4 separate regions of the Homo sapiens genome follow, and regions 1, 2 and 4 are each linked to region 3. The links come from fine-mapping of genetic effects on gene expression. A gene starts in region 3. Each other region holds a variant in brackets. All regions are shown on one strand. Distances are from middle to middle. Region 1 has its middle 65 kb from the start of LINC00589. Region 2 has its middle 88 kb from the start of LINC02948. Region 3 holds the start of DUSP4 (dual specificity phosphatase 4). Region 4 has its middle 9.2 kb from the start of LINC02948.

The links.
Region 1: its variant is fine-mapped to the expression of DUSP4 in fibroblasts (GTEx, PIP above 0.99).
Region 2: its variant is fine-mapped to the expression of DUSP4 in whole blood (INTERVAL, PIP above 0.99).
Region 4: its variant is fine-mapped to the expression of DUSP4 in cerebellar hemisphere (GTEx, PIP 0.94).

The regions. Positions count from the first base shown.
Region 1 is chr8:29,678,624-29,686,779 of GRCh38, reverse strand. No RefSeq gene overlaps it. Among named protein-coding and RNA genes, the nearest start is that of LINC00589, 65 kb to the left of the region's middle. RefSeq lists an enhancer at 5,456-5,505. The variant G/A (reference allele first, on the strand shown) is at 3,946.
Region 2 is chr8:29,470,039-29,478,194 of GRCh38, reverse strand. No RefSeq gene overlaps it. Among named protein-coding and RNA genes, the nearest start is that of LINC02948, 88 kb to the left of the region's middle. The variant T/A (reference allele first, on the strand shown) is at 3,341.
Region 3 is chr8:29,348,419-29,356,574 of GRCh38, reverse strand. DUSP4 (dual specificity phosphatase 4) reads left to right here and starts at 5,891. Exons shown (of 4, transcript NM_001394.7): 1 at 5,891-6,729. The coding sequence starts at 6,297. LOC124901924 (a long non-coding RNA gene) reads right to left here and starts at 5,601. Exons shown (of 2, transcript XR_007060876.1): 1 at 5,041-5,601; 2 at 1-154. RefSeq lists silencers at 896-1,194, 5,384-5,523, 5,714-6,033, 7,604-7,773 and enhancers at 4,974-5,083, 5,124-5,193, 5,892-6,391, 6,714-6,863, 6,392-6,893.
Region 4 is chr8:29,548,987-29,557,142 of GRCh38, reverse strand. No RefSeq gene overlaps it. Among named protein-coding and RNA genes, the nearest start is that of LINC02948, 9.2 kb to the left of the region's middle. RefSeq lists an enhancer at 785-1,984. The variant T/C (reference allele first, on the strand shown) is at 3,979.

The sequences.
Region 1 (8,156 bases), 330 kb before region 3:
TACATAAGTACGTAGTAAAAGTATAAAAGCATTCATGGGAATGTTACATGCTGACCAGTTATTGATGGAGTGGAAAGGAGAATGGTATATTATTAATAACTGCACCTGTGATTCTACAGTGTTTTATTTCTGAAAATAAAACAACAAAAATGATATTTGCAGTGAACAAGACAAAATGTTAACATCTGTTAAATATGGATATGTGGGTGTCATACAGTATTCTGTACTTTTATTTGTTTGAAGTATCTTACAATTTAAAAATCTTAAAAAGTAAAATAATTTTGCAGTCATCTTGAATGGCTGCACAATATCCCATTTTACATGTATTTATGTGTGCATATAACTATATATTGCATAGGATTTATATTATACTTTATTTGATATATTTTCTATATTTCCTATCTGCAATCTGCATAGTAGATAGATCATTTTATAGTAGAAGAAATAGAAGCTCAGAATGGTCTGGTGTCTTGTCCCAAATTTCAGCTAACATAGCCTCTCTACTATCGTAGTGCTGTAAAAATTGCTCTCCCATGAGGGGTAGATAAGAGACTGTTACTGAAAGGAGGAGAGTCCATGAGGGCAGGAGCCTGACCTTGGAGTCAAGAGGCCTGGGTTCCTCTCTCAGTTTTGCCAAACACTAGCTGTGTGACGGTAGGGAGGCTACTTGATCTCTCTGAGCTTCCATTTCCTTATCTGCCCTCTAGGTGTTCTTATATCTGCTCTCTATGTCTCTTAACATTTTGAAGATTAAATGAGATCATGTAAGTAGAGTGCCTGACACTTCTTATACACTCAGTAATTGACAACTGGTGTGTACTTTCTAAGGTAAGACACTTTGTGTGCAAATAACACAGTAATTATAATGCAAAAGACACATATCACCTCCAAGATTTTGTCTTGAGAAGATGTCTAAACCTTTGAAGGGTAAGAGAATTGGCCCTGAGGTAGGCCAACCACCCCCTACGTGGTTATATACATGCATTTATTTTCTTCTTCAGAGCTAACCTCACCTCTAAACTCAGACACGCTTATCCAGCTGTCTATCTGACATCTCAGTTTATGACTCACAGCCATCTAACATCAATATGAGTTCCTGATTTTCCCTGTATACCAATTTTCAAAGCCGGTGTTTCTGCACATCTTCCCCACCTTGGAAAATTGCACCAGCTGGCTGTGCATCTAGAAGCCCAGAAGTCATTCTTAATTTTTTCTTTCCTTTAAGCTCACATCTAACCCAAAGCAGACTTTGTCAATTCTATTTCCAAAATATATCTCACATCCATCCACTTCACTCCATCTTTATCCAGAACACTATTATTGCTTGTTAGACAACTGGTACAGCATGTACATGGTTTACCCATTTCCAACTTGACTCAGCAGCCATCAAGAGTCTCTTTGTTAAATATAAATTGAATCAGAGCACTCATTTGCTTTGAACTCTTCAGTGGCTCCCCATTTCCTTTAGAATGAACTCCAAGGTCCTGCATGATCTTCTTCCGGCCTGTCAATTCAACCACATGTCATGACACCCTCTCTAAGTTCTAGGAACACTCTCTTCTGTTTCCTTTCATCCTTTAAACTGGCCAAGTCTCCCTTCTACCCAAGGCCGTGTGCATGATATTCACGCTGCCTGGAATTCTCCTGTGCATCATCTGGCTCTTTAACAGTGAGCTTGTTTCAACTCAAAGCTACCTCTGAGAGAGGCCTTCCCAGCCTCTCCATCTAAAGCAGTACCTCCCAACTTCTCTCCCCACTCTGTTCTCTCAACACACAATCTGAGCTACTTGGCTGCTGCCTTCACAGCACATATCATAATTTGCAACTTTAAAAATTTCTTGTCTATTTGTACATTGTCTATCTTCTTTACTAGAATAACATTTGATAGCAGTAAAGATTATTTTCACCTAGTTCCCAGTTATAGCGTCAGGATCAAGCTAAGTAGTGGATGCTCAGTAAATACTGAATTAATGAAAAAAATGAGGATTTACAAAAATGTTCAAATTGTACTTGTGAATCACAAGCTTGGAGTCAATGTTTTTCCAACCCTGTGAGCTTCAGTTGTTGAACTGTGTGATTTCGTGAGAGTGGCTCATCTGTCCCGGACATGTGGGATGGTGGAATTGACTTCTATAGATGTGCTCCTAGTCATTCGTGTACTTGTTAGAATTTTCCTACCTCCCAACTCTTTTTAAATACATGTGGGCAGCTTGCTTTATAAAAGAATATTCTATTATGAATTTTTTTTCTAAATGGGATGATTCATTCCCTAATTTCTTTTGGACTAGTCTAAAGACAGATATATTGCATAATTTTTATTAGAAAAACTTTAAAATTAGTTTAACTTGGAATATTTGGAGATTCCCCAGGGGTTGAGACTTGATGCCTTGGGCAATATATTTTTGCCTTGTTTAGCAGGGCCCAACAGGGTTTGGCAGGGCTTTACCATCCAGTTCCAAGCACACATGACTATACTAGTCCAAGAATAACATTAGGTTCTCCCCTATAGATGTATCTCTCTGATACCTGGAATACCACAAAAGGCAGAAAGGCCATAGCACAAATGAAAAATAAGTATTTGTGATAATATAAGAAGTGCTACTGATCACTCATGGTTCAGTGCCACGACTCACTCTGGACCCTCTGAAGGAATCCACTAACTCACCCTTGCACCCCCTGCACCCCTGCTAGCTCTCAAATGAAATGTCAGGGCCATATGATAGCAGCATCTGAGGCTAACCCTTCATGATACCACCTCCCTCTGCCCTAATGATGCTCAGCCTCATCTCCCTCTCTCCCTCCAATCTCTAGGCGCCTACTGGACTCTGATGCCTGACTCTGGCTTCCACCAGGTTTCATGCAGGACCTGGTTCTCCAATTAGCATTTTGGGCTTTGCCCTCCTAAGCAGCTTCTACCTTTGCTCATTCCGAGTCCTGGCATCCCCCACTGATAGAGATAAATAGTGACCACTCCAGCTTGTACCATCCATTCCACTCTTCCACACTCTGGAAGCCCACCTGGGACTCCAGTAAAACAGCCTCCCCCATTCTATAGAGAGTGAGGAATTAGAAAGATTTATCAGAATCTTTCTTAATATGGGGAAAAGATAAAAAGGGCATGCAATTTCTAAGTGCTTCAGGACTGACCAGAAAAGAAAGGAAAGCATACCTTAGTATTGGTGGGCAAAACTTCTTATTTAACTATAACTATGCATGTCTCAGACTCATCAAGTTTTCCTCCAGCTACTGAAGGGCCTTTCTAATCCAGCAGGAGAGAGGAATGGCAACATCAATGCCACCAAAAGCCAAACAGCGTGGCACAGCCAAATCATCATTTCAGTCATTCAACAGGCATTTATTGAATAACAGCGTGGTGCCAGGCACTGTGTTGGTTTCAACCATGTTAGAACACAGTCTCTGCCCTTAAAGAGCTCAAAATCTGGAGAGGGTCAACTGCAAGAAAGCAAACAATGGCATTACAATGATAGCTATTAGGAGAGAGATTTCTACGAAGAGTTACTGTAACATGAAAAAAGGAGTTGTTCGCTTTGCCTGGGGTAGGGCAGTGGGGATCAGGGAGGACTTCAGAGAGCAAATGATATCTGAGCTGAATCTGAAAGAATGAGCAGGAGTCTTTCAGGAAGAAGAAAGCTGAGCAAATAGCATTACTGAGGCATGGAAGCTGGAAGGTACCAGTGGGCTTATGGGAAAGCGAGTGGTTCAGTGTTGCCCTAGCCACCAGGAAAGGAGGTTGTAGAAATAGAAGCTAAAGGATTTATGGCTAGACCACAAAAGCACAGGCAACAAAACCAAAACAAAATAAGGACTATGTTAAAATAAAAGGCTTCTGCACAGCAAATGAAACAATCAACAGAGTGGAATCTGCAGAATGTGAGAAAATGCTGGCAAACTATTCATCTGACAAGGGACTAATATCCAGAATAT[G/A]CAAGGAATTCAAACAACTCAACAGTTAAAAAAAATCCCATTAAAAAGTGGGCAAAAGATATGAATAGATAGTTCTCAAAAGAAGACATACAAATGGCCAATAGGTATATGAAAACATGCTCAGCTGGGCACGATGGCTCATGCCTGTGCTCAGCTGGGCACTTTGGGAGGCCGAGGCAGGCAGATCACAAGGTCAGGAGATCGAGACCATCTTGGCTAACACGGTGAAACCCCGTTTCTACTAAAAATGCAAAAAATTTACCGGGCGTGGCGGCGGGCGCCTATAGTCCCAGCTACTCAGGAGGCTGAGGCAGGAGAATGGTGTGAACCCAGGCGGCGGAGTTTGCAGTGAGCCGAGATCGTGCCACTGCACTCCAGCCTGGGCAACAGAGCGAGACTCCATCTCAAAAAAAAAAAAAAAAAAGAAAAGAAAAGAAAAAATGCTCAACATCACTAATCACCAGGAAAATGAAATCAAAAACACAGTGACATATTGTCTTATCCCAGTTAGAAGGGCTATAAATAAAAAGACAGAAAATAACAGATGTTAGCAAGGATGTAGAGAAAACTTTTATACACTATTAATGGGAATGTAAATTAGTATAGCCATCATGGAAGAAAGTATGGAGACTTCTCAAAATACTTCAAATAGAACCACCATTTGATCCTGCAATCCACTAGAGTATTTAGCCAAAGGAAAATAAATCATGGATACCTGTACTTCCATATTCATTGCAGCATTATTCTCAGTAGCCAAGATATGGATTCAACCTGAGAGTCCTTCAGTGGATGAAAAGATAAGGAAAATGTGGTATATATACACAATGGAATACTATTCAACCATGAAAAAGAATGAAATCCTGTCATTTGCAAAAACATTAATGGAAATTGAGGAAATTATGTTAAGTGAAATAAGCCAGACACAGAAAGACAAATTTTGTGTGTTCTCACTCATATGCGAGGGAGCTAAAAAAAGTTGATCTCATTGAAGTGGAGAGTGAAATGATAGATACTTGACACTGGGAATAGTGTGTGGATGGGTGAGGAATGAAGATAAAATGGTTAATGGGTACATACAGTTATATAAAAGGAAAAAGTTCTAATGTTCAATACTAGAGTAGGGTGACTACAGTTAACAACAATGAATTGTATATTTCAAATAGCTAGAAGAGAGGATTTTTAGTGGCCCCAACACATGCAAAAAAAGATAAGTTCTCAAGGTGATGGACATCCTAGATACCATGACTTGGAGATTGCAAACACTATGCATCTCACAAAATACATATGTACCCTCATAAATGTGTACACATATTTGTATCAATAAAAAAAGATAAACAACAAAAAAGAAGTAGCTGAAGGACAGGCTACTACCAGAATATGAGATGTTTAAGGAGCTGGGACTTCATTATGGGCATTGGGGAGACTAGGCTTAAGGACTTTAAGCAGGACAGTGACATGACCAGATGTGGGTTTTGGAAAAGTCACTTGGCCAACAGTATGGGGAGAAGGCCAGGTGGTTGGGGGCAGGGTGGAAGAGACAGAAGGAGAAGATGACACTAAAGGCAGGAGGAAGAGCTTGGAGGCTGTTGTCTTGGCTTTGTTGAGTGACTGTGAGAACCTAAACCAAGGGATGATATTGAAAGGGATAAAGGAGTCAGAGCACAGACACAATCTGAAAGTAGAAGTGGAAGGGTGTGGTGATGGCTTCACACAGAGCAAACAGCAGATGGAAGAGCAGGGGATGACGTCATCCCATCTGTCCTTTGTAAATTGTTTTCTATCTCTTAGGATACCTAGATGTGCATCATTGTTTGGGTTTTTTTCTTTTTTTGGAAGCATCTCAAACTTACAGATAAATTACAAATACAGAACAAGGAATCTTTTTCCCCAGACCACTTATGAGTAAGTTGTCAACATGATTTCTCATCAACCCTGAGCACTAGTATTTCCTACAAACAAGGATATTCTCCTACATAACCACAATATAACCACCAAAGTCTAGAAATTAACATTGATACATTACCACCATCTAATCCTCAGACCTCGTTCAAGGTTTTCCAATCTTCCCATAATGTCATTTACAGTGAAAAGATACAGTAGTCCAGGATCACACATGGCAGTTAATTATCATGTCTCCTGAATCTTCTTCAGTCTGGAAGAGCTCCTTGGACTTTCCTTCATGACCTTGACACTTCTGGAGATTTCAGATCAGTTATTTTGCAGAATGTTCTTTCACAAGCTCTCACTGTTGGAGAAGAGGGTTATTTCTTTGTGGTTAGATTCACATGATGCATCTTTGAGTAGGATATCCCAGCAGTGATGCTGTGATCTTCTCAGTGCACACTATTTGATGGCACGTCATTTCAATTTACTCCATTACGGATGCTGTTCATTAGGATAAGTTGATTAGGGTGGTGTCTGCCAGGCTTCTCCAGTGTAGTCTTACTCTTTTTCTCCTTATAATTCTTAAATATTTTGTAGAGGGGACATTTGAGACAATGTAACTACCCATTTCTCATCAAACCAGTATTCATGGATTCATATCTTTCTGGACTCATGGTTTCTTCTTTTAGTCAATAGGTTATAATTTGCTACTACCATTATTCATGGTCAAATTGCCTCAAATATGGTCAGTGTGGAGTTTCTTCAAGCTGGTGCCAGTATTGTCATCATTCTTAGAACACACCCTTAATTTCTGGTACAGCAGGGCACATCTTGTACTCTCTCTGCCCCAGCTATGGAATCATCTATTTATCCAAGGAGCACTGAATTCCTTTAATGAAACATGGTATTTGGGCATCAACATGGGGTGTTAAGTGTTCTCAGTGCTACTGGGGGGTTGCTGATCCTAGGATCTCTCAGTGGACAGAGGTGGAGAGCACACACACACACACACACACTCTTGCATTTACATCTATATTTGTTTCTACGTCTATCTAAAAACAACTCTAATTTAACATTACTGGATCTATTCTAATTTTCTCTCTTTCCATGTTGGTAATTCCCTTCTTCAACAGTGAAGGCCTGGCTCCCATTGTCTTTAATATATTTATTTGACCCATCTCCCTCTATGTAGCCAATTTCCTGTGGTTGGGACCACAGCCAACCTACATTGTATGTGGGTTTCCTCCTCACCTTTCTCAGGCTTTTTCAGACACTCTGATCCAGACCACCCCACTGCTAGGAGAGTCTCCTGGTGGGGGACTCTATTACTTTGCATGAGGCTACCTTCTCACATGGCTGCCCTGCTGACACCCCATTGACTCCAGGGAAGGAAATGGAAGGCTGAGACAGGAGAAGACAAAGGAAAGAGAGAGGGAAGGATGGCGGTGGAGAGAAGAGAAAGGGAAAAGACATTCTTGCTTGGATCCCTACAGCATTCCTGTCTGATGGTTGAAGCTGGTACTATTCTCCTTGTCCAGGTGAGAAAATTGGTGTTGAAGGGTTAATGTCTTAACCGGAGCCTCACATGCAGAGGAGTGTAGAGCTGAGGACCACTCCTTGGTCTTTTGAGTCTAAGTCCAATTCTCTGACCTCAACACCATATTACCTATGTCCTGAAGGTCTCCCAGGGACATGTAGATATGCCAAGAAATGAAAATTACTATTTGAGTTAAAATGTGTCTGCAAGAAATGTAGTTGTAACAGTAAAAATGTGTTTTGGCTGCTGATGGTTTCGCTGTGTCCCCACCCAAATCTCATCTTGAATTATAGCTCCCATAATCTCCACATGTCATGGGAGAGACCCAGTGGGAGGTAATAGAATCATGAGGGCAGGCTTTTTCCATGCTGTTCTCATGATAGTGAATAAGTCTCACGAGACCTGATGGTTTTATAAAGGGCGGTTCCCCTACACATACTGTCTTGCCTGCCACCATGTAAGAGGCCTTTCCTACTCCTTTGCCTTCCACCATGATTGTGAGGCCTCCCCAGACATGTGGAACTGTGAGTCCATTAAAGCTCTTTTTCTTTATAAATTACCCAGTTTTGGGTATGTCTTTATTAGCAGTGTAAGAACCCACTAATGCAGCTTCTAATTCACAGAGATTCCTAATAGTCCCTGGAAGACCCCTGAAAAAAAAAAAAAGCACTAACTGTGTATCCTTGGGCGGTCAGCAGGGTGTAGACTCTCTCTCTCCAGCTCTTCCTTACTCTCTCCTTCAGAGAAAACAAGTTGAGCGCATCTTTTTTCCTCCCAGCAGAGGATCTTT
Region 2 (8,156 bases), 120 kb before region 3:
CTTGGGCCTCTGAGTCCAGGTTTAATTTTGTAAGGCATTACTATTCCTGCAGATGGGACACAGATAGGTAAGAACTGGCTTTTCCCCAGTTGCAAAGACGTTTGTGAGAACTTCCCCATCCGCCCAGGCAGCATTCCCATGGCCAGCACCATGCAGATGTTCCTGTGTCATCCTACCCTGGTATCATCAGAAGTCAAAGGCAGAATAGGATTTCCAGGGAAGGCATTTGCCAACTCTGTTATTCAGGAGCTTTTCTTCTTCCTACCGCCACTGCTTTCAGATCAATTCATTGCTCAATGTACCCACCACCAGGCTCCAGACAGGACAGACAAAAGTCATTGTCAGTCAGTTTTACCACTTGGAAATAGTGCAATTTAAAGTGCTTGTGTGAGAAGATGCTGACATGAAATTAGCTACCCTGAGGATGGGGGATTACTGAGTGCACAGTCTTCCAATTCCCACATCACCAAGGATAATCTGCATCTTTGAGGGAAAATTAACACCTCATGAAAAGCCAATCTGAAAAACACCAAGTATAATTAGATAAGGATAACTATGTGTTTATTAATTCAACAAATATTTGAGAGCCCAATATGTGACGTGCTTTGTGCTAGACGCTTGGCATGCGATGGTAAATGAAGCAGACACAATCCTCACTTGTCTAAATTATTCAATGCTGTTATGGGGTTGAGTCATGTTCTCCAGAAATTCATATGTTGCCGTCCTAACCCACAGTACCTCAGAATGTGATCTTATTTGAAGATAGCATCTTTAAAGAGATAATCAAGTTAAAATGTGGTCATTAGAGGGGGCCCTAATCAAACATGACAAATGTTCTTATAAAAGGGAGAAATTTGGAGACAGACACACATACAGGGAAAACACTACATGAAGATGAAGTCAGAGATTGGGGTATTACTTCTATAACCAAAGGAACATCAAATGTGGCCAGAAAACACAACAAGGCAGGGGAGGGGTCTGGAAGAGATTCTCCCTCACTGCCCTCAGAAAGAACCAACCCTGCCGACATCTTGATCTTGGACTTCCAGCCTCCAAAACTGTGAGGCAATGTGTTTCTGTCGTTTAAGTCACTTAGTCTATGGTTCTTTGCTGCAGCAGTCCTAGCAAACTAAATACAAATGCCTTCTATAAAATAAAGTCACTTAAAAAGGAAGAATTCATGAAAAATTCCAACAAACTTTGTTTCTTTCTCTTCTATTATTGGAGGAATTCGGCTTCCCATAAACATGGAGAACTTCCATCTCTCCCAGCGGTGGCAGTTGTACGGAATCCCAAGACACAGCTCTAGCCTAGCCACCTCTGAAGGAACCCAGGGCCAGAATAAGTGGGGGCTCCTTGGAGTTCCGTGGAGGGACCTCACAGGTCAGTTGGATAAAATGCAATGAATTCTTCCTTTTTAAGTGACTTTATTATATAGGAGAACCTTTCCAAAATTTCTCTAGGGGACCCAGGATTATCCTGCCACTTCATTGTCTCAAAAAATGCTGGAAAACGCTGGCTGGCTTCAAAGATACATATCTAAGTAAATATTTTTCACGAATTTTTAATTATATTTATGTTACCAGTGAATTCTGTGACCTTGGGCAAGCCTTGCCTCCTTCCTGGACCTCAGTTCACTCATTTGCAAAGTGAGAGGTTAGACTAGAGGGTATCTGGGCCTTCTCTTCAGATTGAGTTGCGTTGCAACTTGCAGCTCATTGGTGCCAAACAATCTATGATAACAATAATAATAGTTAAAATGTGAGTGCTTACTTCTACCAAGATTTGATCTATGCAATCTTCCTAAATTAGTGCATTTAGTCTGTGCAACACTTTTATAAGAAAAACAAAAACAAATAAGTTGATTATTCTGAAATTTCTCCACGTACCTGGATTCAGTGGAATAAAAACATTATTATCACAAGAAAGAAAGCCACTGTCTCAGGCAGAGTATAAGGTGGCCTCTAACCTTCAGAATGCCCAAGGGAGTGCTTGGTCTGCCCTGTATGCTAGATGTAGGGCCTGCAGTTTGCTGCAGGAGCAAGCTATCCACACAATGAATGGGCCCATGTAGCCTATTCAATATCTCATAAACTGTCATACAGAGGCCATTGATCAAAAAGCCATTGGCAGAGAAGAGAATGTAGTATGTGATGGAATCATTGCTAATGATTCCACCTAACCCAGACACAAGGTTTCCTAAAATACATTTTCCACAAAAAATTGTTACTCTCAAAAGGGACCAAAGGCCAACCCACTGTAGTGGCTTCCAGGTGCTGCTACGAGATAATGCTTTTGTCTAGAAATGAGAAGCAGTGAAGTAGGTCTGCAATGTCTTAGAGGAAGAAGTCACCAAGGTCCATCTCTCATCCCACAAAGCTGGCCTGTGGGACCAAGATGGCCAGGGACACACCACAGCACCTGCCTGCTGCCAGCAAAGAATATGTCATCCCAGAAAGAATACTTCTTGCATCTCTCTATTGCCAAAATAAGAGACTGTGGTGAAAATTCCGGACTGAGTTCAGCCTTTTAGGCACACGTTTTTTATTTTATTTTATTTTTTTGAGACGGAGTCTCACTCTGTCACCCAGGCTGGAGTACAGTGGCACAATCTCGGCTCACTGCAAGCTCCACCTCCCAGGTTCATGCCATTCTCCTGCCTCAGCCTCCCGAGTAGCTGGGACTACAGGCACTCGCCACCACGCCCCACTAATTTTTTGTATTTTTTAATAGAGACGGGGTTTCACTGTGTTAGCCAGAATGGTCTCAATCACCTGACCTCATGATCTGCCTGCCTAGGCCTCCCAAAGTGCTGGGATTACAGGCGTGAGCCACCACGCCCAGCCTAGGCCCACATATTTAACTCCCTCTTTGTGACGGGAGTACCTTAAAAAATTATACCAGTGAAAGCACTTTGAAAAGTGAATTAAAATATTTTTTACATTCTTATTAATGTTAAAACCAAAAATCCAGTGTACATTGTTTTATAAGAAAAGACAAATAGCTGATTACATTTGGAACAATTATTCATTGATAAATTCAATGGTATTTATTCACCTCTACCAACTAGTAAGTTTGTCTTAAATCCATCATTCTATAATCTGCTCCTTAGAAGGGGTGGTAATCACAATCATAGATCCATGGCTGATAGAGATGGAAGGAATCTTCTAGAACATCTGGTCTAATGTCTCTTTTTCTTTTTGGGGGGACAAATTCTTGCTCTTGTTGCCCAGGCTGGAGTGCAATGGCACAATCTTGGCTCTCCTCCACCTCCCGGGTTCAAGCAATTCTCCTGCCTCAGCCTCCCGAGTAGCTGGGATTACAGTGGGATGTGCCACCA[T/A]GTCTGACTAATTTTTTGTATTTTCAGTACTGACGGGGTTTCTCCACGTTGGTCAAGCTGGTCTCGAACTCCCAACCTCAGGTGATCCACCCGCCTCGGCCTCCCAAAGTGCCGGGATTATAGGCATGAGCCACCATGCCCAGCCTAATTTCTTATCTTTACATTGAGGATACTCAGTTGTGAAAAGAAACAAAGTGATGTGCCCAAGATTACAGTGCTCAGAGGCAGCACTACAGGAAAACCCACAGCTCCCGACCCCAGGTGGGTGAGGACTCTGAACTATAGCCACACCACTTTCTAAAAGCCCTCACTCTTCCCTGTACCCCCGATCATGACTCTCCACCTGCCTAGTCCTTCCCGTCTATCTTTTATGCATGGAGGCTGGGGACTGACCCTTCACAAAATGGAAGCATTTTGAGATTATATTTTCAAATCTAGAAACATCATTTTAAGTTCCTAGGCTTACAGCCAGATTTTCCCACTGAATAGTACAACTGGATAACTTGCATCCCATTTGCCAGACTTTCTTCGATAATCTCCTTTCCTCTGCCCTTTATTTGGGAGGAAAATAAGTCAGAAAGAAGGAACAAAGAAGTTCTATGTGCACGGAAAAATACAGAATCCATCCCTGGCCATCAAGGCCTGGCTGAAGCCCAGGAGAAGGCTGAGAACTGTTTTAAAGAAACAGGCTCATCTAGAGGGATTCTCAGGCTGACAGGACTTGTTCAGGGTGTGAACTGAAGATCTAGCCTTTGTGGGTAAATTGCTTAGGTCAATGAAGTATGATGGAAAATAATGTCACACTTCATTGTGATAATCCCAAATTGGGAGAGCTCTTAGACATGGCCCAACACAACTCCTTGCACTGTATAATAGATCCTTAGCACTCTGCTGCATGATGTTCTCAGTTGCAGCTGTTGACACATGATCTCAAAATCCATGACATACTCTTTTGTAATTATGAGGGAGTACAAGTTTGAATCCAAGTTTTGAGCCAGTGGTGAAGGAGCAGGTCAGTTGGCTAAAGAGTTGGCCTTGCTAAATGCCCAACTCACATACTTTGCTGGGGCCCTAATATTTTTCTTCTGACCCAAATTTCTAACATTAAATTCTGTTATAACGGTATCTGTATGTGTGGGGATTTCCAAAGTATCTAGTAAGTACTAGTAAATACTCTAGTAAGTATTTTTCCCAAATATCAAAGATTTACTCTGTAAAACCTCTCGCCATGGAATCCCTCAGAGATACTCATTCAGCCTCCGGTTGAAGACTGAAACAGTGAAATCTTTGACCCACTAGCCTTAAAATTCTTTCATCATTCTCTTAGCAGTTTACCTGCTGCCCCTCTTAGTCTTCAGCTATATTCCTTTTCTTTCATTATTGCTTTTTTCCTCACTTGTCTTACCCAATAGTCTTTCACATTGCCACTGGAGGGTCCTTTCAGTGCTTCACAAGTATGGTGGAGGGTCTCAGCTTCCCACAGCAGAGATTCAGATGCATATAGCTTGTTGAGTTAGGTGGCATTCCATACCATAGTATCCTCTATTACCCACTGAGTTCCATCTAGTTAGAAGCACACTAGGGAAAAAAATTGTGATTATGTCTGCATCCGTGGTGTGAGAGGCAGCCCCACTGAGGAGGCCACAGGTGCCTGGGGAGAGCAGCCCTACAAGCAGCAAGCTGTGGTTCTGGCCAGAGTGGGAAGAGAATCCCAAGAGACATATACCCCAGAGGCCAACACAGAGTGGTGGGACAAGAGGCTGCCAAAGATCATTGTCTACATTAAAGATACCTCCAGGGAACTCCCAGGCATTCTACAGGAAGGAGAAGACTAACCTTGAAAGGCTCTTGGGGTTCTACAGTTGACAGGGTGGAAAGATCCAGCATAATTGGGGCCTGGATAGTACTGTGATGTAATCTTATTTTTCTTAACATTTGTGAGGTCAGGCAACATCGAGTTTACCCACCCAGGAAAGGGTTTGTAGACAGTTTCTCAACCATTCATAGAAAGGCGAGTACCTTCATCTCTCTGTCAACCACTGTGTATGGTTTGCACAAATACAGCCATAGAAGAAGTAAATCATAGAAAACAAGCAGGTGTGTAAACTCTTGTTGGGCACCATGGAAAACGTGGTTTGCCACAAGATAGTGGGGCTCAGAAATGATCCCACCAAGAGATATTTAAAACTGGGTGATGCGTGGGCTGGGTGCTGTTTTCAGTGTTTTCTCATTCAGAGGAGCAGCATTTTTGCCTACCTGTGAACTCAGACCCATCAAACCTCTAGTTTACAAATCAAATCCCATGCACTCTGGAATGGACCTGTCTGTCAGTGATGTCAAAGATGTCCCTGAGGGCTTTCAACAAGGTGATGTCACCTTAATGTTTTCGATTTAACACATTTCCTTTCCATTGACTCAGCCCTGACACTGTCTTACGTTCTATGATGAGAAAGCAGGGGAGCAGAGGCCAAGGCTATCTCTTCCTCCTCTGAGGATTGAGGGGACTGTGTATGTGCCAAAAAATAAAAAATAAATGCTGCTTGGCATAGTAGCACGCACCTGTGGTCCCAGCTCCTCGGGAGGCTGAGGTGGGAAGATCATTGAGCCCAGGAGTTCGTGGCTACGGTGAACTATGATTACATCACTGCACTCCAGCCTGGGTGACAGAATGAGACTGTCTCTAAAAAGTATTTTTTATAAGTAAAAATAATAGTAACAAATAAATGTTTATTGTTTTAAAAAAAACTGAAGAGTATAGACATATATAAAAATTAAAATTAAGGCCAGGCACAGTGGCTCACGCCTGTAATCCCAGCACTTTGGGAGGCCAAGTTGGGCGGATCACAGGTCAGGAGTTCGAACAAGCCTGGCCAATATGGTGAAACCCTGTCTCTATTAAAAATACAAAAATTAGCTGGTCATGGTGGCAGGCTCCTGTAGTCCCAGCTACTTGGTAGGCTGAGGCAGGAGAATCGCTTGAACCTGGGAGGCAGAGGTTGCAGTGAGCCAAGATCATGCCACTGCACTCCAGCCCGGGTGAGAGAGCGAGACTCCGTCTCAAAAATAAATAAAAAAATAAAATAAAATAAAAGTCCAATATTTTCCAATAACCCCACCCAAATGCAGACAATTCAGACCCCTAAGGTAGACACTGTTAAGAGATTGGGATGTGTGTTTTTATTTTCTAAGAATATACAAGTACTCCCCACCAACACATCAAAAAAATGTAGTCACACTAAACACATAAAGTGGACATCCTACTGTTTTCTTTTTTCTTTCCTTTTTTTCTTTTTCTTGTTTTTTTTTTTTTTTTTTTTTTTGAAACAGAATCTGGCTCTGTCACCCAGGCTGGAGTACAGTGGCACAATCTCGGCTCACTGAAACCTCCGCCTCCCAGGTTCAAGCAATTCTCCTGCCTCAGCCTCCTGAGTAGCTGGGACTACAGGCGCACACCACCACACCTGGCTAATTTTTGTATTTTTAGTACAGACGGGATTTTACCATGTTAGCCAGGCAGGTCTGGAACTGCTGACATCAGGTGATCCGCCTGCATCGGCCTCCCAAAGTGCTGAGATTACAGGCGTGAGCCACCGCACCCAGCCCATCCTACTGTTTTCAATCAAACTCTGTCTTGGACAGCTCTCCATGTCAGTATCTACAGAGTCTCCTTATTATATTTTTTAATAGCTGCATGGCTATCCCATTCTATATATGAACCATATTTATTTAACCTATCTTTTATTAATAGACATTTAAGTTATTTTGAGTTTTTTGTTATTACACGGAATGCTGCAATACATATCTTTTGTACAGTTATCCTTGGAGATGTGTATAATTTATTTCTATAAAATAAATTTCCTGAAGTAAAATTGCTGGATCAAAGGTGTCTTAGTCCATATGTACTTCTATAACAAAATACCTGAGACTGGGTGCCATGGTTTGACTGTTTATCCCCCTCCAAAACTCATGTTGAAATACATTGCCAATGTAATTGTATTGGGAGATGGAGCCTTTAAGAGGTGATTAAGACACTAAGGCTCCACCCTCATGAGTGGGTTTAACTATTTTTTTTTTTTTTTGAGGCAGGGTCTTGCTGTGTTGCCTAGGCTGGAGTGCAGTGACACGATCATGGCTCATTTCAGTCTCAACATCTTGGGCTCAATCGATCCTCACACCTTAGCCTCACAAGTAGCTGGGACTACAGGTGCTCACCATCATGAATGGCTAATTATTTTATTTTATTTTATTTTATTTTATTTTATTTTATTTTATTTTTATAGAGACAGGGTCTTGCTATGTTGCCCAGGCTGGTCTCAAACTCCTGGGCTCAAGCAAACCTCCCACCTCAGCCTCCCAAAGTGCTGGGATTACAGACATGAGCCACTGCACCTGGCCTAATACCTTAGTAAAAGGACTTTCAACAGTAGGCTGTTTCACTATTCTGCTATGTGAGGGACAGTGTTTCTCCATTCGGGAAGATGCAATGCTCCAGGCACCATCTTGGAAGCAAAGACCAAGCCTTCACCAGACACCAAAACTGCCAGTGCCTTGATCTTGAACTTCCCAGCCTTCAGAACTGTGAGAAACAAACTTCTAATGTTTACAAATCACCCCGTCAGTGGCATTTTGCTATAGCAGCACAAAACAGACTGAGACTTTGGGTAATTTATGAATAATAGAAAAGTATTTCTCACAGTTCTGGAGGCTGGGAAGTCCTAGATCAAGGCACTGGCAGGTGAGACTTGGTGTCTGGTGAGGGCTGCTCTCTGCTTCCAAGATGGCACCTTCTTGCTATGTTCTCACATGGTGGAAGGGG
Region 3 (8,156 bases):
ATGTGTTTTTTATGCTTCCATCTTGGTAAGAATTTTTATATAAGTAATTTCACAAGTCCAAAAGACATCTTTTCTGACCATGTACTCCAACATTGATTTGGAAAATACATTCATTGTTGAAGCCTTGGAAAGGTGATTTAGACATTTTGTTGTCCTGAAAAAAGTAAATATAAAATGTAAACAATAATTACATTGTTTTTCCTTTGTTTTACAGATGGTAAAATCAAAGTACAGAACAACTGACTTGCTTAAGATGGCAATGAAAGAGTCGGGCCCTTACTTAGGTCAGCTACCATCTAGGTCGGTTGCTCATCCATGGCACAGATTTTCTACAGAGCTTTTGCATCATCTTAGCTCCCTTGTAGTTTCACACCAATTGCTCATCTATTTTTAGCAGGCAAACCCACTGGGGAAGAGAGATGCTAACAAATGAAAGGAAAAGAATACAAGGCACAAGGGCAGAATGAATGTCAGAGGTGAGATAACAGTTTAAAAAAAAAAAAAACCTACAAGAGAACTCAAGGACATTTCAAGGATAACATTTAAGTAGATGAAATGCACTTTATTCATGATGGCCTTTTCCTCCATTTCCCTAATCTCACAACACGGCTCCATCCCTTTCTCTTCTGAATCTTCCTGGCATGCTGTTTGTTCTCTAATGACACTTTGTTAGATCCTGCTTTCTGGCAATGTACAGTGGCAATCACACCCTGACTAGACCAATGAGACTGTCAGCTTTTTGAAGGCACAGTGTTTTGGACAAATCTGTCCCCCTACTTCCCGCACCTCTTGCTGAGTCTAGCACGTTTGTTGAATGAATAAGAGAATCTGCACAGCTAGAGTGACCCCAAATAACCTAGTTTTGTTTTGTATTGTTTTGTTTGTTTGTCTTTTGAGATGGAGTCTCGCTGTCTCGCCCTGTCCAGGCAGGAGTGCAGTGGCCCAATCTTGACTCACTGCAACCTCTGCCTCTCCGGGTCAAGGGATTCTTTTGCCTCAGCCTCACGAGTAGCTGGGACTACAGGCACCCACCATCATGCCTGACTAATTTTTGTATTTTTAATGTTGGTCAGGCTGGTCTCCAACTCCTGACCTCAAGTGATCCGCCAGCCTCCCAAAGTGCTGGGGGATTACAGGCATGAGCCACCATCCATGCCCAGCCTCCGAGTTCATTTTTATCCCGTTTGGAGAAGTGTTTCTTTCCAAAATTTGTTTCTGAAATTTTGAAGACGTTTTATCAAAATGCTTGGGACGTTAGCACGTGACTAAACAAATAAATAAAAACTATGAGCTCTGCTGTCCATGAGTTTATATTCTAAAGCAGGGACAAGGAGGAGCTAGAGATCGTCCTTTATCTTATGGCATTATAGTGTGCTTGGCTCTTCAGAGGGCGAGATGGGAAACCTATGAAACTTGGACTCGGAGCTGAGAAGTCTTCTTCTGCTCAGAATCATACAGGGTCGGAAATAGACCAGACCTGAGAAACCATCCTGCCCAAACTCTTCATTTTGCAGGTGAAGAAAGTGAGGCCAAAGGAGACTGTCTTGCCCAAGGCCACCAAGCTAGATGGTGGCATAGCCTAGATTGAATAGTTTTAAAATAAAGCAGTAAATAAAGCAATGCATTAAAACCTTTCTGCAGAGACCCTGGGTTAGAAACTTAATCTTTTATTATTTTTTATTTGTATTTATTTATTTATTTTGAGATGGAGTTTTGCTCTTGTCGCCCAGGCTGGAGTGCAGTGAGGGGATCTCAGCTCACTGCAACCTCTACCTCCCGGGTTCAAGCGATTCTCCTGCCTCAGCCTCCAGTGTAGCTGGGATTATGGGTGCGCGCCCGTCATGCTGGCTAATTTTGTATTTTTAGAAGAGACAGGGTTTCACCATGTTGACCAGGCTGGTCTTAAACTCCTGACCTCAGGTGATCTGCCCACTTCGGTCTTCCAAAGTGCTGGGATTACTAGCGTGAGCCACCTCGCCTGGCCGATACATAGCCTTTTAAATCATTAATAAGTGCTAGAGTATCAAGCATAGAAAACAAAAAAGATCTGTAACAAAGTCAGGACTTAAAAAAAGAAATCCTCAGGCTATGTCTTTGAGAGTTTTTGGTTAGGTTCAGTGTGAACTTTGAAGACTTTCCTTCGCTTTCAGTCCTGACTTGATGGGCAGAGGTACGTAGGGAAGGACAGGCATTTCTCAATTCCATTTCTAAACGTTGCCTAAGAACACGCTGTGTAGACCACAGGCTTCTCTGCTTTCAGGAGCAGGAGAGGGTCTCCCAGTTCTTTTGAGCCTTCCCACTACCAGGGGGCAAGTTCCCTAATTAGTTGATCTAAGAAGCCTAACCAACAAGATCTGTGCAAAATGGATTATTCCTGTTCCAGTTCGACGTAATAGCAAGGCTGCCTCTTTGCTCAAGAAAGGAAAAGCCACAGGACTTTTCTTTCCATCACCACCTTAATTAATTCATTAATGATTTTTCAGGCAAGTTTTATTCAGGCACTTTGGGACAGAGCAGTGAGTCAGAGGTTGGCATCAAAACTAGAATAGAAGCTGTACTTCTCTCTGGGGATTCTACTCCGGGCTTTAGATTCCCCGATCATACAACTTCCTAATTGGAAAGAAATGTTCCTAAACAAGAGCAGGTGTTTTGCTGGAGCCTGACAGTGACTAATAAGGTCGGTCTAAGGACTGACTGATGAAAGAGAAGCTGGATTTACTTGTCACAGCGAATTTTTAAAAGTTCTTTCACCCCGAGGTTTACTGCTGAATATAAATAAAAGACCTCTCCTTGGGCAATCCCATCCCAATTCCTACAAATATGCCTTAGTTAATTAAATTAACTTTGAAATGACATTCCGTGTCTTGCTCCAAATTGCCTTTGTTTTCTCCAAGATCTGCTCATTGACAAGCTGTTTCACAAGGTTCCTGTTTAAAATGGTTATGTTTCGTCCACAGACTGCAGACGAATTGGAGACAGGTTTTATCTATAGCCGGCATGGAGTAGCCCTCGCGTTGTACTCATTTAACTGTGGACCAATGGTTCACAAACATACAATTAAAAAATATATATCTAGGGTGTTTACACAGTATCCCGATAAATACAATATGGTAACTTAAATCTCCTTTGCTGAAATTCACACAACTGAAGGCCAATTCCTGAGTTGGCAATGGGGTGTGGATTTTAAAAATTAGTCTTTTTTAAAAATCAGGCCTTCGCTTTCGCAATTCAAGTGGCTCTCGGCTTAAACACATTAAGTCCCAAGCTGTGACTCCCTTCCAGTGAACAGCCGCGTAGGCGCGGGCACGCACACGTGGACACACACACTCACACGCGCCCTCCCACACCCCTTTCCGTGTGAATCGCCTGCGGGATTTAGGGCTTCTCCACCAGCGATTACTGTCAGGTGCAGAAAGCAAGCCTCTTTGTTCTATGGGCATTTTCCTCCCCCTGGATTTGACTGTTATTTACTGGCCACGTGAGCGCCAGGCGCGGGTCCGGCGGGGAAGGCGACCCCAGAACAGGGTAGACAAAAGCTGGCCCAGAGCGCGACCCGTGCGCCCCAGGGACGTCTCCCCAGCTCCTGCGACACGCGTGAAATTGGCCCGGACCTGCCTCCTGAGAGGCTTTTCCCAGAAATGTCTTGTTAAAGCCTTTGTAAAGGAATCAGTGTTTACTTGCGCCGGGAGAGCTCCGGCCCTGGGTCCTGGCAGGCGGCGGATTTCTGAGCTGCTGGAGAGCAACCCGGGAAAGCAAAATCAGCCTTGGACTGTCGGGGCCCCTGGGGCTCCTTGCTCCTTATCGAAAGCGAGTTATTAGATAGACCCCCACAGTCCCATTCAGCAGAATGGGAAACTGGACTCAGACACCTTTTGCCCTCCCCACAGGGAGGCCACGCCGTGCGGCTTTGACCACTGATCTCCCACCCGGAGTGCCCGACGCCCAGGGTCCTGCCACCGGGCAGCCTCGGTCAGTCCACAGTTGTGGCTCCTTCCAGGGCCTGGACTAGGGTGAGCACAAGCCTTGAGCGCAACATTTAAGAAGGGCGCCGAAAAGTCAGTAATCAAAAGAAATATCTTGATGCAATGCCTCTTTAAAAGAAAAAAAAATGCAAAAAATCCATGATGAATAAAATACTAAATTTTAAAAAGAGAAAGGATCCGTGCAGTGCCATCGTAAGCCATTTTGGAGCCCGGAGCAAAAGGAAATATCACCTTGCCCAAGCGGTGCCCCTACAGCTCATCCGAGTAGGGCCCGGGGGTCGAGGCATTCGGGGCCCAGTGGGGGACGAGGCCAGTCGAAGGTCTCGGAAGTGGAGGCTCCGCCGAGCTCCGGTCGGGGAGTGCAGGGATGGCCCCCGGGACCGGAGGTGAGAGCTCGGGAAAGCCGCTCCGCCCGGAACAAAGGCATGGGGAGAGGGTGAGCTTGGGCGGGAGAGACCCGGCGGGTACCGGTGCCCTCGCTGCCTGGGTCGGGCTTCCACGCGCGCCCCGGAATGGAATACGCTACTCTGCAGCCTCCGAAACTGCGAGCGAGTCCTGTAACTCCCTTGCTCTGTGATTAATTCTCACTAACAAGACTTGGCAAGATGTCGGGCGAATGATTTTTGGCTTCTGCACGGTCCCCACCGCGTGCGTGCACAAACCCCCAGCCAAAAGCCGCCTCTGGGAAATTAAATGCAAAAGAGAAATGGGGATGGGGAGGGCTGCTACGTGACCAGGAAAAAGGGATGCCCAGAAACATGAATCGGACCCAGAGCTGCTGAAGTCCTTTCAAAAGGTCATTCTTTGCGGGTACATTTTCCAGGGTCCAGCTCCGCAACAAATGTGGACCCTGTCATTTCCTGAAAGGATAATTCACAACTATGCAAGATAGGGTGAAGACGTTTCCCAAACCCGAAAACCTTGTTTTTCCCCCGACCAGGGTTAAATAAACATCTTTTAGGAAGCGTGGACAGGAGCGCAGCCTGCTCTCCTCCCTCGGAACACCATTCCGGCAATTAATGCCTCCCTTTGGGTAGTAAAGCAACAAACCCCACACCTCACTCCGATCCTGGGCTTCGGGCGGGAGGACTTTCTCTTTCATCTTCCAAGCAGGGGGTTGCCCACGTTCTTGGGGAAGCTATAAAACTGATTTAATGGCTTTAGATGAAAATCGATCACGCTAATGCATACGCTAACGTCTCAGGAATCGCATATTCAGAAAGGACTGGCCGGGCCGAAAGCGCACGGGGAGTCTGGGGCTAGGAGGTGTCAGGCCCCGCTGGGTGGGCAGCAGCGCTCCGGTCCCCTCTCCACTTGGGTAACCGGGAAAAACCTACGGGGCTGTCACGCGGGGAAGCGCGAAGGTGCCAAGGGATGAAAGCTCAAACCCGAGCCCTGGCCTCCTCAGCCGGCTATTTCCTTTGGCGCCGCCCGCCTAGCGGCGGGGTGCAGCGGCGGCACAGGTGCCGGTGTCGGGCTGGAGGCGCGGCGCAGGCTGGGCCCGCGGGTAGACGGCGAAAGGCGCCGCGCGCTCCATTCACAAAGTCCGGGCGCTGCCCGCCGCTGGCGGCGGGTCGGAGGCCGCCTCCCTCTTCCTCTCGGCCTCGGTTTTATGAATGGGCCTGATGGCGAGCACCCGGCGCCCTGTTTACTCCGCTCTTTGTGACGTCGAGTTCCCGTGACCGGGAGCCAGCGGCCGCGCTCCATTCAAGCTCCGGGGAGGGGGTGGGAGGAGGGGCCCGGAGGGGGCGGGGAGTCAGCGCGGGGGGCGGGGGACAGCGCGGGGGGCGGGGGACGGCGCGGGGCCCGGAATGGAACGGGGCGGGGCCTGGCGGGGTAGTACCTAGCGCCCCCTCCCCCGGGAGCGCGGAGGAGCATTAATAAACCTCTAAGCCGAGGAGAAAACTCTGGCTGGGGCAGTGCGCTGAGCGCCGGAGGAGCGTAGGCAGGGCAGCGCTGGCGCCAGTGGCGACAGGAGCCGCGCGACCGGCAAAAATACACGGGAGGCCGTCGCCGAAAAGAGTCCGCGGTCCTCTCTCGTAAACACACTCTCCTCCACCGGCGCCTCCCCCTCCGCTCTGCGCGCCGCCCGGCTGGGCGCCCGAGGCCGCTCCGACTGCTATGTGACCGCGAGGCTGCGGGAGGAAGGGGACAGGGAAGAAGAGGCTCTCCCGCGGGAGCCCTTGAGGACCAAGTTTGCGGCCACTTCTGCAGGCGTCCCTTCTTAGCTCTCGCCCGCCCCTTTCTGCAGCCTAGGCGGCCCGGGTTCTCTTCTCTTCCTCGCGCGCCCAGCCGCCTCGGTTCCCGGCGACCATGGTGACGATGGAGGAGCTGCGGGAGATGGACTGCAGTGTGCTCAAAAGGCTGATGAACCGGGACGAGAATGGCGGCGGCGCGGGCGGCAGCGGCAGCCACGGCACCCTGGGGCTGCCGAGCGGCGGCAAGTGCCTGCTGCTGGACTGCAGACCGTTCCTGGCGCACAGCGCGGGCTACATCCTAGGTTCGGTCAACGTGCGCTGTAACACCATCGTGCGGCGGCGGGCTAAGGGCTCCGTGAGCCTGGAGCAGATCCTGCCCGCCGAGGAGGAGGTACGCGCCCGCTTGCGCTCCGGCCTCTACTCGGCGGTCATCGTCTACGACGAGCGCAGCCCGCGCGCCGAGAGCCTCCGCGAGGACAGCACCGTGTCGCTGGTGGTGCAGGCGCTGCGCCGCAACGCCGAGCGCACCGACATCTGCCTGCTCAAAGGTAAACGAGGGCTCCGGGCGCTAGCTGGAGTCGGGGAGATGGAGGGGGTCTTGGCGGCCTGCGCCTTATTGGCACGGGAAGGAGTCCCCGGCGTGATTCGTGGTTGCGGGGATCCCCGCGCGCCCCTTTGTGTGTGTTGGTGTGTAGGGGTTTGCAAGGTTTCTGTGCAAGTGCGAGGTTCAAGTCCTCAGGGAAAGTGCGGACGGGTTTCTCCGGTCACCTGCAATTCCGCACCGTCCTAGCGAGGCCCCGTTTATTGACATTAACGGTCCTAGCCTCGAGGATGAAGCGACTCCTCTGCGCGGTCCATCTTGAGTCCCGGGAACAGTTTCCAAGTACCACGGGGCGCGTGGGGACAAGATAGGCCTGTTGGTTTGGCGTGCTGGGGCCCTACACTGAGCCGGACCGGGAGAATCCCAGAGGTGGAGAAAAGGTGAAGAGGGGTGGGCGCCGAGGTACAATTGGCCTTGCCAGTTTCACTGAAAACAAGACCCTGGCAAATGCAGAAAGGGAGATTGGGTTGCACACACTGTGTAGAGCGATCTGTATCTGCGTTCCCGCTGCCCAACTCCAAGCTCAGCTTGGAAGGTGGCCAATCCCCGTCCCGGGCTAGATCCAGGCTCTGGGAGCGGGAGGCTGAAGGACTGGGTATCTGGGGGACGCCGGGCGGAACCGGTCCTCTAGCGCCTGCAAATCCGGGCAGCGGAGAATGATCACCTTTTGTTCAGCCCGGATTTTCGACTATCTGATGGCGGCGCGTGCCGGATTTTAGCGAGCCCTGGCGAAACTCTCGGCGGCGAGACTGTCTTGTCACATTTGGTAGTCGGAAATCCTGGAAAAATCGCGTGCTGTCCGAGTCCCTGGAGGGACCTGGCGCCCGCCACACCTGCAGGGCAGGGTGGGTCCGCGGCCCTCGGGCTAGGGAGCGGGCAGGGCGCGTGGGGTCCGGGCGCCCCCCGCCGCGCTGCGCCTCCGCCTCCCGCCGCCGCATTCCGCGCATTCTTCCGCGCGGGTAGGGTCTGCGCTTCCGAGCCCGGTAGGCAGTTCAGACCCCCCCACACCCATCAAAGAGCCGCTCCTCCCCCCCGCAGGCGCCTTCGCCGCCTCCCTCCCTTCCTTTCCTTTCCGCTCCTCTTCCGACCTGTCCACCCGGGAGGAAGGGAGCTGGAAAGGGGGCGGAAACCTCTCCCCTCCAAAAAGCACAACAAAACTGTTCAGTGCGGAGGAGCCGGGTTCGCCCCTGCCGGACAGCGGGGGGCTTTGTTCCCCGCAGTTGTTTCCTGCCCATTTGACCTGTCAGCTGCTGGGGAAACGCTGCTGTTGACCTTTGGTTGAACTGCTAAGGCGATTTTGCTGATTTTTCTTTCTTTTTCCGCGAGGGCTGTCTTTTGCTCCTCCAAATGAGCCCAGTCCCCCTCCCTTCTCCC
Region 4 (8,156 bases), 200 kb before region 3:
TAGACCCTTAGAAGGCCCCTTTCCTGTTTATGTATTTATTTACTGTCTTCTAACTCTATTCTTCACTCCTATTTCCACCCCCAAGAGCAACCATCCAGTGGATTTAATATATATCATTTTGCTTGGTTGTACCCCTATAAAATGTGGATATTTGCTTTATGTGTATGTATTTTTAAACTTCTACATGTCCCTACATGACACTTTGCTCCTGGTGAGTGAAATCTGCTCTTTCTAGGTCGTATACTAGGTACTAGGTTCTATATTTCTATTTTCCTGGTGAAGCTGGTGAGAGAATTCCTACCTCCAAGCCCCTTCCTCTCCACCACAGAAGATGTGTTCAAGCAGAGGAGATCTGCCAAAACCACACTTTTCATTAAGTGAAAGAGCACATATTATTCATCTATACAACAAAAGGAAGGGGGGCAAGATGGCAAAGTGATTAACAACACAAGCTCTCGAGTCAAACGTGCTTTAGTCTGAAGCCTGCTTTTCCACATTTATATAACTGCAGGCCAATTACTCAGCCTCCCAAAAATCTGCATTTCTTCATCTGTAAAATAAGGATAAGAGTAAATCATGAGGTAATGGTAAAGGTTAAATAAGACAGGCTTAGAAAAACAGGGGCTGGCACCGAGTACATTCTAAATGAATGACAACTGAATTTAGTAATAAATACTTATTGGAGTGCTCACAGATGCCAGGCCCTGCAGGTCTTGTGCAGGAGAGAGAGCTTAGAATGAAAGACAAAGAGGAAGTGAAGACCTTTAAAGGCATGTCTGGGAACCCAGAAAATTATACAATTAAAGTCTTCTAACTGTTAACCCTTTAAGTCCCAGGGATACAAGATTCCAGTGAAGATATTTACAAGTGTCATTATTGGTCATTTTCTACACTGGCACAAAACAATGAAAGGAAAAGAATAGTCTTCCGTGTGTGAAACTTCTGTTTTTAAGGTTAAAATCTATACTTGGAGGCATAGGTTTTGTGTTCACCTAGCTTTCCCACTTTCAAATGAGAGCCTCTCACACATGTAAATTGCCACCTGTCTGGTATTAACTTGGTCAAGAGTGTCGTACCAGGCTATCTCTATTCTGAGGCTTTCTATTCAAGGAAGCTTAGAGTTACAGAAAGCTGGCCAGAGCCTGGGGGTAGGGGAGTCCTTAGGGACCATCTGCCTTACCCTTCCTTTGCACATGAGGACTCTGAGTAGATTAAGCAGCTTCCGTCACCGGCAGTATTTTATGTAATATGCTCCAACAGACATTCAGCAATCATACAAATATGAATTCCTGTGAGTGATAATACTTAGAACATTCTGGTGTTGCCTCCAAGTTCATGGGCACCTGCATGCAGACAGCAGTGGAGGTCATGCACGACCTTGCCTTAGGACAAAGAAATACTCCATAATCATATCTGGTGTCCAGATATCTAGGAAAGAATGTGACCTAAACTTAACACATCATGTGTTCTTCAGCCCTAGAGCCTATCCCATCTCGCCATCGATTTAGCCTTTAAAGGGCACACCTTGAGGAAACAATGATCTCAGTCATTGCCCTTCAGCAATGTGAACTCTGGACTGTGTATCTAAAACAGATGGAGCCAGGTGCGTCAGAAAAGTGACGCCCAAAGCCACAGCGATCACGGCATGATTATGAAAACCACAACCTGTAACATTAGCTCAAAGAAGCAAGTTGAGTGCTTCCTCGAAGAAAAGTCTTTTGATGAGCCTAATGAGTCATATGAAATCAGGAAGTTATTCTTCCATTTATACTTTCCAAACTGGCTTAACTGTCTTTATTAACTGTTGTTAACACATGAAAAATGTTATTGATTGACTTTTAGCAGAATGATGAATTAAACTTAGCTTTTCTCATTGTTTCTCAATATAATACTGGTGTTGTTACCCTCTTTTAAATGTCTGATCAGCATCTACAGATATTCAACCCCTTAAGTGGGGATTAGAAAAGTCAATACACCCATAATTAATCCTAAACAGCTGATGTCCATCATTGGTGGACATTGGTCAATGAACTGTTGTCATAATTAATGTTAAATGTATAAGAGAGAATAATTTGGCTTTATACTGTTCATGTTAAGGCAGCTAGACAGAAAAAAATATATAAAATCTTCCAGAAAAATCTTGAAATAGATACATTTTAGAGTTTCATATGCCTTAGCATTCTACTTGTTTAAGATACTCATAGGGAGTTGTGAAAATGTGTCATATTTTGTTCTGATTAGTTTCAGGTTTTATAAATTTCTATGTATCAAATAAACTGAATTTATTAAGACATAATTAACCTATTTTCACATTTTAATCATTTAAGGCATATATAACTGTAATCAAAGCTTCAGATCAGGATGATATTCAATGTTATCAAACTGAATTAATTTAACTCTAATCAAAAGCAAAAATACCATGACATTCTGGTTAATTCATGCACTTTTATTTTGGGAAATGTGCAAAGTCTGTTGAACTTCTTGAAAAAATGAAAATTATTTAAAAATCTCTCTTGCTTCCTTTAAAGACCTCCTACGGTCCCAGGTCCCCCAGGGGATGAACCACTGAGTTAATGTTTCATAGAGGGCTCAGTAGTAGAATTCACACAGCCTTGAATTGGAGAAGGAGATCTGTCTTTTACTTCTGCCTTTGTCCCCCAAAACCTGCGTTTGTGACCAAGACACAAGTCCAATGCTTACCCTTCCAATGTTTCAATTTACCCATCTGAAAGTACGAAAAACTATGAGATAATTTAAGAAAAAAAAAAGGAAGAAAAGAAAAAGCAAAGAAAAGAAAAGAAAGAAAGAAAGAAAGAAAGAAAGAAAGAAAGAAAGAAAGAGAGAGAAAGAAAGAAAAGAAAGAAAGAAAGAAAAAGAAGGGGAGGGAGGGAGGGAGGGAAAATTTTGCACCTCAGGGCTTAACAACAATTCTACAGGAAGAAAACAATTTGGGTGTTCTGAGCTCAGAGAACACCTTAGGATGTTGCTCGTTCACATCTACTGAGCACCAGATAAATTCAACCTTTTTGAGAATTTAAAGAATTCCAAAAATTCAACTAGACTAGATTAGTTCCATATCAAGCTATTTGAATTCAATAATCTTCAGAAAAAACGATTACAATTCCAGAGAGAGAAATTGTTTTGAATTCTGGACCAGGGAACAAAGCCAAAAGTTTTGACTTGAGCCCTAAAGAGTTTCCAACTGTATTTCAATTGGAAATAAAAATGTGCTTAATTATGTCCACATCTACTTCTTTTGTAGTTTATATAATAGCTGTTTGGGGTGACTTTCCTTAGGAAACAGAGCTTGTGCCTTGATAGCTAATGAAAGGGATGCTTTAAAAAGTGTACTCACATAGACAATAGTCCCCTCTGACTTTAGACTTTTCTAAAAGTCCCTCTCTGAGTTGAATCCCAAGCTACACGTGTGCATTCTTATGCAAATAAACCAAATATCCAAACCAGGTGCACAAAACAAGAAATTCCAACACAGAAATAAAAACCTTATTTACTCACAGAATTGCAACAGTCTCAGTATTAACTGCTCTAACCTCATGAACAATCAGGTGCTGAGGGAATCAGGTGCTGGGGACTCATGGCTCATGAACTTCAGCCTGAGGAGACCATGATGATCCTAACAAGATGAGATGCCCCAAGGGACCACAATTCTGACCTTTGTCTCCACAGTCCATTGGCCGACCATCTTCTCTAGAAGAGTCCATCTTGCAAAGAAGTGCTCTTTGTTTCTCTGATGTTCTCATTGGAATCAAAAGAAAAGAAAACCTACAGACATGGTCTGTACCATGCTGCCATGGGTGACCCCCTGGTTTGCAGCCAACTGATAATCCAAAACAGTTGAGATGATGAATGTTTTAGAACACTGGTTTAAAGAAAGGCTCTTATTTTGGCCAACATGAGGCTGAAAAAAACCTAGCCAATGCCATTTTGAGACCAAATGGAAGAGCAGCAGGAATTCTG[T/C]CTGATTTAGAATGTTGTATGACACAATCTTTCATTACCTCCCACTTTGCTTACATGTTATTTATGCTTACTGAAATAATTTTTAGAGGTGAATATACTAACCATGACTATTGTCATTTATACCACAGAACCTTGAAAAAGCTCAGAAATTAGTGGTACCAGGTTACTTTGGAAGCAGAGTTAATGGTAAATAGAGTTATTTAAAAGGTTGTTGACAAGCTGTTAGGAGTTCACCTCTAATAGAATAAACTCCCACTGGACCTCTCTGCCTCAAATAATAATAATAAACTTTGAACAACTTTTTAAAAAAAATCCGAAAACACTGCAGAGTGAACAAAAGCAGGTAGATTCTGGAGGGGAGTTGCCATTTGGAATAAGGGAATGGCACAAGGTAGCAGAGTAATTTTCCCTTTTCTTCCTATTTCTTGGACCTAGGAAAGGTGGCCAGGTGGCATTGCTAAAACTCCAATAGAAAATCTGCAGTCTTTCTGGTCTGAAGAACCAGAGAAAAGAGTTCAGGGCCACTATAGCCACAACCACAGGGGAAATAAAGGGGTAATATTGGAAAGGAGGGGCCAAAGAAGGGGAGCCACAAATTAAGTGTGTAAATTCTGAGCTACTCCCTAGCTACACATGCACAGGGCAAACTGCACACATATCAGCTAAATATGCAGGAACTACAAGGAGATCTGAACTATCACCAAAAATCAGAGTTTTTAGCTTGAATCAAACCAAAGCAATTGCCTATTAAAATAAATAAATTCAACAACAACTCTCTCCCAGATTGTCCACAACATAACATTCACAACACCCAGAATACAATCCAAAATTATTCCATATATGAAGTAACAGGAAAATGCAACTCATTCTCAGGTGAAAAGATAATTAACAGAAATTGACCTTGAGATGACCCAGATGTTTGAAGTAGCAAACAAGGATTTTATGGGAGCTATTATAACTGTGCACAATGATGCAAAAGATAATATTCTTATAATGAATGAAAAGATAGGGAATCTTAGAAAAGATATAGAAACATAAGAAAAATTCTAGAACTGAGCAGTATAATATCTGAAATAAAATATTTACTAGGTAGAAGAGTAGGAAGGAGATAACAAAGGAAAGTGTCAGTAAACAAGAAAACAAATCAAGAGAAATTATGCAATTTCAAGCATAGAAAGGCAATTAAAACAATAGATCCTTTCCCTTACTCAACTTAACCAGATGACTTTCCCTCCTCCACCCCAGCAGAACACTAAAGGCTTAACATTCTCTAAAGGAGGTAAAACAGAGTCTCTGAACTTAGTGACCAAGGATAGTTGAAGATGGTAGTACAATAATAGAAACAGAAAAATTAAGTAGAAATTGACATACTAAATAGAGACAACACTCACTCCCATGCTTGCTCTTTTTCTCAAAATGTTAGCAGTAGGCTTATGCCCTCCAAGCAAGATATTAAAATATTCTACTTTGAGGAATCTTACCAACCCAGGAGAAAAGACCCAATGATATTGACAGCCAAGGTTATATTCTCCAGCCAAGTAATCCAACCATTTCCTATCTAGGAGAATATATGCCTGGTTGATTGCTTTCCAGGAACAAGATGGAGAAAGAAAACCGGGACTTGCATCATTCAGTGTGCGAACTTCCATAAAATACTTCCGCTTGTTAGCCCTAAACCTCTGTTCCCCTCTGTGCTGTCCCATCTGTGAATATTTATCCCCACCAAGTAGATGAATTGGATATTTAAGGAGCAAGAGTCAGAAGAAGGCTAACTTGTATCTACATTCTCATTAGTAATTTTGAATTTTGTACCAAAAGCATACATTATTCATTCAAAAAATAAAGCATTAATTTCCAGTGCTCAGTAAAGGGAATGACAGATAAATTTGAGGAAATAGCCCACAAAGGCCAGAAAATACAAAGAGAAGAAAAGTTGAAGAATAAACATGAGAAATGTGAAGAATCAATTCAAGAAATCTGACGAACAACTAATAGTAGTTCTGAGAAAAGAATAAAGAAAACAAAGAGAGGACATTGTCAGAGAAATAATAGAAAACTTCTCAGAACAAAATAATATGAGTCTCTGGATTGAAAGTAACCACAAAGTGCTCAGCATAATAAATGAATAAACAAAGATCCAAACTGAAGTATGACAGCCATTTAAAAAAGAAGATACTAAAAGCACTTAGAACAAAACAATCACATGGAAAAGAAATGAAATTGGAAATATATCAGAATGCTCTACGGCAACACAGGAAGCCAGGAGACACTGAACCAATGCTAACTTCAACATTCTGAGGGAAGTTATGGATGTACCTGGAATTCCATTACCAGCTAAATTATCAATCAAGTATGAGAATAAAGATATCTTCAAATATACAAGGAGTCTGGAATATTTCCTCTAATGTACCTTTTCTTAATAAGCTTCTAGAGGATGTGCTCCAGAAAAATAAGGGAGTAAAATAAGATGAGGATGCAGGACACAGAACAGGTGCAAGGAAAATCCAGGAGGAAACTGGGGAGTAGGACTATGGTAGCAGTAAGTACAGACTGGACTAGAAGGATAAATGGCTCAGGGGCAGTTGTCTTCGAAGCACAATGGGATTGATCAATTATCAAGAATATTTGACCATTTGAAGGCAAAATGGAAGGTGTTGGATAGACCTCAGCAATCATGAGTGTGGTGGAGAATTAAATAAATTTTAGTAAATTTTTAAAAAATAATTATTATCTCCAATAAAAACAAAAATTTCTAAAGCAAAATGTAATTATAGCACACCACTTGGTTTAGAAGTGAACAATACATATATAACCATAATAAAGTAAATGCCAAATCTGATTTAACCATAAATTTGATGGAACCTCATTGCACTGGTAGAATCAGAGAAATGGGATAGGAAGTGCACAAAAGCTCAACTCGACTGCTATAATACATGTAGATAGATAATGTCTAAAACTGATAAATCAAGAAATAACCATTTATACTTATTATTTAGAACCCAGGAACTAAAAACCAGAATAACCAGCTAAAAGAATGGATTGGAAGTAACTGCCTCTGGACAGCAAGATCACAGATTCGTTGTGAACATGGAGACTGTTATTATTCATTATTACTCTTTAAATACAATTTGACTTTTAACCAGGTTATGTATAACTTTGATAAATATAAAAGTAGTTTAAAATAAATAAGTACAATAAAGTAAAGGCTGAATTATTCTAAAGAATGATTCTGAGAGGGGTAATAATTATGATGGCTAAGACTTAAGTCATGTTCACTATCTGCCCAAGCTTTCCTTAGCATTTAATATATATTAAATCATTTAATTCTCATAACATTACATGAGGTCTCCATTTTGCAGACAATGAAACTGAGGCAGAGTAAAGTTAAGTAACTCATCCAAGATTCATGCAACTTTTAAATGGTCTAGTCAGGAATTGGACTGAGACAGAAGGTTCCAGAATCTGGGCAATTTACTACCCATTGCCCTTTTAGGAAAAAATGTCTTCCAACTCCCCTCTCCCTTCCTTCTATGTGCTATTTAGGTTCAGTGATTCTAGTTCACACAAAATATACTAAAGTAAACAATGTTTTAAAACATTCAAAAATACTTTGCAAGACTTTTTTTAAACAAACGTTTTTATTACTATAAGTTGTATAAATTGTAAAATGATGATTACCCATTGTATAAGATTGATTTTAAAAGTCAGAAAAATATAAAGAACAGATTACCCTCTTCCTCAAAGGCTCAAATTCAGTGCATCTCTGGAATTGGGCAGAGAGATGTGAAGACTACTCAAAGACCCTGGATTTTTAGAGCTTCTGTTGTATTGAAACTCTTAAAGTTTGAAGCTATTTAAAACTCGAAGCATTTCCATCAGAACAAGGTCCCAATTTCATATCATCATCCTTTCCGTGTCTGAAAGTATCATTTCCCTAAGTATGGGCAGCAGAACTATCATACTAATCATTTTGCAGGAAGAGTAAGTACTACTATCATGACTGTCTCAATTATTATAATTATTATCTTCTCTAAACTACCTGATCAGGTAATCCCAGGCAAGCTGGTGGTGGTACCCCAAGGGATAAGTTTGAAAATAGATGCCCAGGGCCCTTAGGTTGGCATATGCTAGATTAGTTTGTCAGAAGCCATGACATTTTTTCAGAATCCATGTATATG